Regions from separate parts of the Homo sapiens genome. Here region 1 is linked to region 2. Evidence: fine-mapped expression QTL. Tissue or cell type: whole blood. Region 2 holds a variant in brackets; the other region holds the start of a gene. All regions are shown on one strand. Distances are between the middles of the regions.

Evidence for each region. PIP is the estimated chance that this variant, and not a neighbour inherited with it, causes the effect.
Region 1: DYSF starts here. The variant in region 2 is fine-mapped to the expression of DYSF in whole blood (TOPMed, PIP above 0.99).

What each region holds. Positions count from the first base shown.
Region 1 is chr2:71,464,149-71,468,387 of GRCh38, forward strand. It overlaps DYSF (dysferlin), which reads left to right and starts at 2,551. Exons shown (of 56, transcript NM_001130987.2): 1 at 2,551-2,785. The coding sequence starts at 2,695.
Region 2 is chr2:71,596,183-71,600,421 of GRCh38, forward strand. It overlaps DYSF (dysferlin), which reads left to right. Exons shown (of 56, transcript NM_001130987.2): 33 at 2,382-2,563. Among named protein-coding and RNA genes, the nearest start is that of DYSF, 130 kb to the left of the region's middle. RefSeq lists enhancers at 1,839-2,340, 2,341-2,840. The variant C/T (reference allele first, on the strand shown) is at 2,395.

The DNA.
Region 1 (4,239 bases), 130 kb before region 2:
GACTGGAAGCTCCCTGAGGGCAGGGATGTGACTTATTCCCAGCAAGTCAGAGGTGATGGGTGAATGTTTATTCTTTCAGTCCATCATTTAGAAAGAATTTATGGAGACCATGCTTTGCACCAGGTGCTGTTTCAGGCACTGAGGAAACAGCAGTGGACAAAACAGACAAAAACCCCTGGCTCCTTGGAGCAGACATTCTGATGGGGAAGACAGAAAACAATTAAGACACATGTGCTATACAGTGATTGGTGCTAGAGAAGAAGCCTGAAAGGGAGATGAAAGAGGGAAAGTTGTGGTGTTCAGTTGTGTGGCCGGGTTGGTCTCACTGGAGTTGATATCTGAAGGAAAGGAAGACATGCCAGCCAGAGGGAACAGCTGACAGAGACCCTGGGGAGGCGCTGGTCTGGCCTGTCTGGGGAACAGCTGGAAGGCTAGCATGGGTCCTGGGGAGGTCAGAGAGGTCAGCCAGGGCTTTCAAGGTCACGTAAGGGGAGAGTGGCTGGAGAGGAGGTCAGCGAGGTCAGCCAGGGCTTTCAAGGTCACGTAAGGCCTTTGAGTTTTGCACTGAGTGAGATGGGAGCCAACGGAAGACTTTGAGTAGAACCAGGTCATGAGAATTGAATTGAGGATAGACCATGGGGACAAGGGCAGAGCAGGAGACGCATTGGGAGTCCATGGAGTCGATTAAATGACTCAGGCAAGGGATGACAGGCTTCCACTGGGGGCAGTTACAATGGAGATGGTGAGATATGGTGGGATTTTGGACATATTTTGAAGGAGAGTGGGAGGGGGATTTGCAGTTTTGGTGACCTGGTGGGGTTGAAGGTGTCACTGGGTGGGTTCAAGAGAGAATGGAGGAGGGAGATTGGAGACAGAAAGTATGGAGAGCTCCTTCAAAGGGCATTGTTGTGAAAAGGGAGAAATGACCAGTAGCTGAAGGGGATGTGGGGTCAACGGTGTGCTTTCTTGAGAGCAATAACATCATGCTTGTGTGCCGATGGGATGATCCGGTAAACAGGGGAACTTGGTAAGGCAAGAGAGTGAGAGAATCACTGCAGGCTCACCACTGAATGGGCGAGAGGGGATGGGGTCTATGCCCAAGTGTCCAGTTGTTACCAGTGGGGAGTACGGGTGATTCATTTGTAGGAACAGGAGAGAACTCACAGGATTTGGGCACAGATGCCGAGGGCGGGCGTTAGAAGGAGACTGGGGACCTGAAGAAGTTCTCTGCTCCGTAAAGAGGAAGCAAACTGAGAGTGAGGTTGGGCGATGGGGTGTCCTAGGGGCATCCGGGAGACAGGGAGACAAGACATATAGTATGATTGCCCCCAGCAGTGAGGGCTCGCTTGAGTTAAGGGTCATGACTACAAAAGGCACCACTCAGGCCGGCTGTGTTACTCTCCAACACAGCACTGGTTGGGGGCAGGTGTGGAGGAGGCGGAGTTGGATTCGCCAGGGTTATGGCTTAGCCCTGTGAGAATGCTGTATCCCTCAAAATAAGAGAGGGGAAAGGGAGTTGAGATTTTGCGCAGCAGTGCGTTTAGGCTGAGTGAGCAGGTTGGTTAGTGAGGACTTGGGCGGTGGGAAGACGGACAGTGCCCTGACAGGGGCTAGGTGCTGGAGTGCTGGGGGATAGAAGTGCGAAGCCAGGGCCCCTGTGTCAAGAAGTTCATACGCTGGAAAGGAACCAGACATAATAAGCGAAACGACTGTCACCGTTCATGGCTTACACCTTGAACAGCTTTCCACTGTGGAGACTAGGGAGTGTAGAGATTGTTGGGGATGGGGGACTTGCAGGGGACAGAATGGGCCGCAGCTGGACCCTAGTTCTCCAGGGAACGCAGTATGATTTGAATACAGATCTCTGCCTCCAGAGATGAGTGACTCGACACCGCTGCGGAGAAGGCTCCGAGGAGGGTTGGTGGGGACTCGAACCTCGGAGTCTCTCCCGACCCGGGGGTCCCAGCAAACCAGAACGGCCACCTAGACAGCCTGCGGACGGGAGAGGACCGGCTCCCTGGCGCAGATCATGGGGCAGGTGGAGAGAGGCGAGAGGCAATGAGGCGGGGGGCTCGGGGTGCACGGCACGCTCCGCACACTCCCCCTTCAGCGCTCACTCAGACTTGGTTTCCCCGAAGACACACTCTCGTCCCCGCCGCTGATTGCCCACTCCTTCCGCCTGCACTCCTGCCTCCTTCTCACCCTTTCGTCGAGCGCACAGGGCGGCTGCCAAGTCGGCACCGGTGCGCACCGGGCCCGGGATCCCTGGCTGGTGTGGAGCCTTGGTCACCGGAGGCCCCCGCGGAGCAGGCCCCACGGCGCCTTGTGCGCTCTCGGAGGCCGAGCTGCGCGCCCGCGTCAGCGGCGCCTCGTTCCTGGCCGGGAGCTGGGACCCGCGGAGCTAGGGACCAGCACCCCCACAGGCGCCCGTCTGACCCCTGTCCCTCCCCGCCCGCCGCGGGCAGGGCGGATCTGGGTAGGGGCCGGAGGGGGAGGGTCCGCCCAGCGGGTGTCCGGTGTCCTCCCTGCAGCCTCTCCCAGGCATTGGTCACTTCTCCGCGGAGGAGCAGCGAAGGCGACAGCTCTCTTGGCGCGGCTGCCTGGGAGCCGGGCGCTTGCTGGGTGGGTGCTCGGGCCCGGTGCTCCCGCTCCCGCCCTGACTGCGCGCCTGTGTGCCGCCGGGGCTGCCCAGCCATGCTGTGCTGCCTGCTGGTGAGGGCCAGCAACCTCCCCAGTGCGAAGAAGGACCGGCGCAGCGACCCTGTCGCAAGCCTGACTTTCCGAGGTGAGAGCCCCGTGGCTGCCGCGCCCATGCTCGGGTGCTACCCGACTCTCGGCGCTCACTGGCGGGTCTGAAGCCCCTGCTCCGGAGCTAACCCTAGTCCAGGCCACAGTTTCTCCCTTTGTCAGCAGGGACGGAAATCCCAGCCCCGACTTCTGCAGGGGGGCGATGAGGAATAAGCAGAGCACAATAAATGCCACAGGGCTTTGAAAAATTGGAAAAGCGAAAGTGCCGTAGGTCAGCGGTTATCACTTTTCTAAGACTGACACCCAGAGGAAATAAAGTCCGAGCTTTTACTGGGTAGTGGGGATAAGGGTAAGTTGGAAGATGGGTGCAGAAGGTAGAGAGGAATCAGGGCCTCTGAAAAACGGGGCGTGTAGATGATGTGCTTTGAAAGTTGTGTCTTTTTTCATTCATTCATTCATTCATTCACCCATCTTTATCCAACATTGGCTGTATTGAATCTGCCCCGTCTTAATCAGTAGGAAAAGGAACAGAATAGGATGGAAATGGCCTTGACACAAGGAGTTTTGAGGAATGTCAAGGATATTTTCTCTAAATTCAAGAAGCTAAGTCCCTACATGTAGTGCTTAGAATACATACAGGTATTTCTGTGTGGGGCAGCAGAGAAATCACACACACACTCCTCTTCTCACCAGGCGTCCTGAACCCCCTCCCCCAACCCCTCCAAGGCAGATTCCCACTGGAGCGGGTGTCTCAGGAGGGGAAAGGGAAGAGGAAGGATCTGTCAAAATTAAGAGAAGGAACAATAGCTGTGAGTCAGGACCCCAGTTCTGCAGAGAAAGATAAATCAGGAGAGGAAAGAGGGTTTCCACTTAGCCAGGAGCCATACCCTGTAGCTTTGTGGAATCGATAATAATAATAATAAAAATCTACGTATCAGAAAAGATAGTCAAATGAAGAAGGAAGAGTAGCTGGTGTTTTCATAAGCCTCCTTCAGTGCAGGCACCAAGGGAACTCTTTTCAGTCTGACCCATGATCTGAATCATATCTCCAAGCACCCCCAAGATAATGATAGATGAAAGACATGATTTGGCAAAGGGAGATTTATGTGTAGCTTTTATTCTTTGCTGTGGGACAAGTTATATGTATTCCTCTTTTGAAAGATGTGATTTGAAACGTTTAAGAAAATTTCACTATTTTCATTGATTGGTGACATGCCTGGGAGTTCACTATGCAAGAGCAACTTCAAGACAAAGTCTTTCCTTCTCCAGTGTCCACCTGATGCTGCCTAAGGCTTTGCTATGCAGAAATTGCGGTGTCACCATTGGCTGGAAAAGAAATTCCCTAAGGACACTGGGCAGGGCACACATTAGCATAGGGCTCTGGATGCTCTAACACTCGTTTGGGTCTGCTCACAGCTCTTTCCCTTGTCCTGTAACAGTCCTGTGGTGGCTACCAATGTCTCCATTCTGCAAATAAGGAAATTGAAACCC
Region 2 (4,239 bases):
GAAAGCCACCCCCTCCCCGTTCTCCCCCCAGCGCTGAGCTCATTGCCTGGGCTGATGGGGCTGCTGGAAGGAGTCAGCCTGCTCGGGGGCCAGCGTGGGGGGTGCTGCCAACACCAATACAGCGTGCACAGCCGCTACAATGTGCAATTGTGATCTTTGTGTAAACGCGGTCGGTCTGGGGCCCGCATGCTTATAAAAATAAAGCGTAGGGAAGCACGGGGCGGGGCGGGAACAAAAGGGGCTTTTTCGCTGGCTCTCTAATATGGTTTTATTTATCGGAATGCGCCCTCCTTTCCTTACTGGAACCTGGAGAGGTTCTCTGCCGAGCTTGGAGCTGATGGTATCACAGCCAGACGGTTTCATTAAATGCACAGATGCCTCTGGGCCCTGCCAGGGGCAGGACGGAAAGGGCTCAGGGCCGGCCCTGCCAGGTCCAGTGCATGGAAAGGAGAGCCCCATGCCAGAGAGGCTCCCACCAGGTAGGGGTGGGCAGTTCTCTCTGGCTCCTTCCCCTGCCAAGGGCCTCCCATTGCCCTCTTCTGTTCCACAGAATCAGGCTCAAAACCATTTTCCTGCAGGAAGTCCTCCATGATTTGTGCCTGATGGCTGTCAGGCTGATCCCAGGCTGGTGGCTGCCTTCTATTAACCAGACCCAGCATTGCTCAGCCAGTGGGTGGCCATGGCTGAGTCCGCCCCTTAACTTAGATACCTCCTGCTCTTAAAATCAGCTCTTTGGGCAACAGGTACAACCTTGGATCCTGCTCTCTCCATCCCTTGATGGGTTTCCTGCCATTGCCCACCCCAACCTTCCCACCTCTTTCCTGGTCACTCCTTGCCAGCCCCTTTCTCTGCCACCTGTGCAGTGGCCATGGTGTCCCATTTGGTCTTCTTGTGGCCAGGGAGCCTGTCTTGCTCTTCTCCCCTTTGTGCGGAAGCCCTGTCTCCCCATCCCAGCCCCTGGGTTGTGTTTGAACCTGCATCCTTCTGAGGCCAGCGACACAGAGGCCATTACCTCTGAGGCCACTGAGGCCCTCTTGAGGTCACAAGGGGAGTGAATGGCAGTGCTAGGGCTGGACTGTGGGGCTCAGAGGGCACAGGCCATTGCAGGATGGAGTAGGGTGCCAAGGGTATTGAGTGCATGGTTAGGCACTGGGTTCAGCCCTCAAGGTGACATCCCATTAGGAGAAGCTGAAGGGAGTCCCCTTCTCCAAGCCCTGTGTTCCTCTCCCAAGTTATATGCACTCAGACCCTCTCCTGCATTGGTTTCCAAAATGTGGTCCCAGAAGGCAGCATGAGCATCACTTTTAGGAACTTGTTAGAAATGCACATTCTCCAGCCCACCCCGGCCCTGCTGAATCCGAGTCTCTGGGGGCAGCACCCAGCAGCCTGAATGAACCTTCCAGATGATCCTGCAGCATGCTCACATTTTCAGAACCACTGCCCTAGAGTCTGCTCTAGTGACACCAACTTGCCTTTGGGACAAGGTAGAGGGAATGAGTTGTGGCTGGGTCCCAGGGTGGCGTGGCCAAGGCTGGCAGGCTGGAAAGGAGTTTGGGGGTAGCAGGGAGCTGCAGGGGCCTTTGGGTTTCTCGCACACCCCTACTGCTAAATAGCTGCTGAGTCTGTGCACTTCCCTTTAGCACCCCACACCCATCTAAGCCACCATTATTCCTCCCTGGACCACTGCAGTGACCTCAGAACTGGTCTCCCTAGACCTCATGCTCCCTCCAGTCTGTTCTCCATGTGGCAGCCAGAGTGAGCTTGCTGAAACGCAGACCTAGCCACGTCAGTCTGGTGGCATCCCAGAGCTCACAGACACCAGCAGCTCTGCTCTGCTTCCCCTTCCTCAAGGAAGCCAGATCCCTCCCTAACACATTTCACTGCATTTTATGTCTATTCTTCAAGGCTCTGACCCAAATTGTAATTTTACGTTAGCTTGTGTGGATATTTTATATTTAGTTCAAATTGTATTCTCAGCCCCTAGCACCTAGCACCTAGCCTGGCATAAAGAAGGCACTCAATACATGCTTGCTGGATGAATGAATGAATAGATGAATATACCATACAGGCACTCACTTCCCCCAGCTGGACCCTGCTTCCAGCAGCCACAGCTCAGGAAGCGGCAGAAAAGGGGATGCTCTCTGGATCTTGTGCCCATTTGCCAGGACCCAGGCTCCATGTCCCCACCGTGGCCTCCAGCTGGCCTCATGGTGGGGCTAGGAGAGCCCCATAGGGAAGATGCATCCCAGCATGAATGTTGTTGCTCCAGAGTGGCAGCCACAACCCTGCTCCAGCTTTGTGGCCCCACATGGCTCTGGAGAAGACATCTCTCAGGGTCCCTGCTGTGTCCTGTCTCCCCTCCCCCTCTCCGGCCCATGCAGATCCCTATGCCAT[C/T]GTCTCCTTCCTGCACCAGAGCCAGAAGACGGTGGTGGTGAAGAACACCCTTAACCCCACCTGGGACCAGACGCTCATCTTCTACGAGATCGAGATCTTTGGCGAGCCGGCCACAGTTGCTGAGCAACCGCCCAGCATTGTGGTGGAGCTGTACGACCATGACACTTATGTGAGTCTGCCCAGCTCCTGCCTCGTCCCCTCACAGGGAGGGACCATGTGCAAAGGTGGGGTCTCCAGGGACTCGTGGCTGCCCAGCCAGATGGGTGCTCTCCTAACTCCACGGGCCCTAGAACAATTAAAATAATTTTAGAGTCATTAAAAATGGATTGCTAGCACAGATGCCGTTCCCACAGCAGACATTGCTCATCAGTGGAAGGGAACATATCCGGAAAAGGCGCTTGGTTGTGGGTCAGGGGCTTGGGTTTTCTCTGCCTCTGCCTCGCCTGTGTGATCCCAGGCCAGTCCCTTCTTCTCATCGAGGAGCTGCGTGGAATCCTTAAATGTACATCAAACACTTACGTTACTGGCTGAGTGGCCCTTCACTTGGGGTTCCTTGTTTAGGTGGGAGCCCAGACACCCACACAGTGGAGAATCCTCCATGTGAGAGCACGGGTCCCCGAGTGCCTCTCAACTCTGTGCCACAGGCAGGGCCTCTTACCACAACTGTCCCACAGGACCTCCTGTGGTGACAGGCGAGCTCTAGGGCTGTGCTGTCCAAAAAGGGAGCCTCTAGCTGCACGAGGCTGCCCAGCACTGGAAATGGGACTGGTGCAGCTGAGAAATGAAATTGTAAATTTTATTTCATTTTAACGAAGTAAAATTAAAATTTAAATAGCTGCAGGTGGCTGGTGCTCCTGTATTGGACAGAGCAGCTCTAGGAGGCTCCCAGGAGGGAGAGAGTGCTATGGGCTGGAATGTCAGGAAAGCCTTTGGGAAAGACCCAGGCCCTGGAGGAAATGTGGGGTTGGGGTGTCAGTGCGAGGCAGAGGCCTGGAAGGAGGAGAAGGGAGTATGAGGCCAGGGGAGCAGGAGAGTGCTGACGTCAGGGCAGCATTTTCCGAAGAGGAGGCTGGATGCTGCCGGAAGAGATCCACTGGGCGCAAGGTAAAGAGGCCCGGCCTGCGCTGGAGGTGGCGGTGGGATGAAAGGGGAGGGGCTGGGTTTGGAAGACATTGTCAGTAAGAGTTGCCCTGACCAGACATCAGGTTCCCTGGGTGGGTGTGGTGAACAGGGGTGGGGGAAGGTGCTGCTGTCTATATGCCTCACCAGATGGCAGGGGCAGCTGGCCATGGGTAAGCTGGCCTGGGCTGGGGATGCAACGTTGGGGTGCTTGGAAGGAAAAGCTGGTACCATGGGAAGGAATGAGCAACTGGAGGAAGAGTCCATGTGGGACTGTTTGGAGAAGGGCACAGGCCCTGGCACCTTCGGAGCAGGAGGGAGGCAGGCGGCAGGGCTGGCACTTCTCGGGGGGACTCGGCAGGACTGAGTGCAAGTGCAGAACAGGGCGGGAGGGCAGCGGTATGAGCTGCAGGCTGCCAGAGCCCTGAGGGGGCTTGCCCCTGCATCCAGTGTGACAGATCTGTCTTCTGGGCGGCAGGGAGTTAAGGAAAGTGCCTGAAGAAAAGGCACCTGCCTTGATGAAAACATCATTTTGTCCAGGCTCATTTAATTTGATGAACGTGATCACAGTTTCCCCATTTGCAAAGTGGGTGGGAATTTAAGGGTGAAATGAGCAGGAGATACAGAAGTCCCTGGAACTGCAAAAACCTGTACTGCTGAGCGCATTAGAGAAATGCCAGGAGGCCGTCTCTCTGGTCTCCAATAGTCTTAGCGCTGATTAAATTG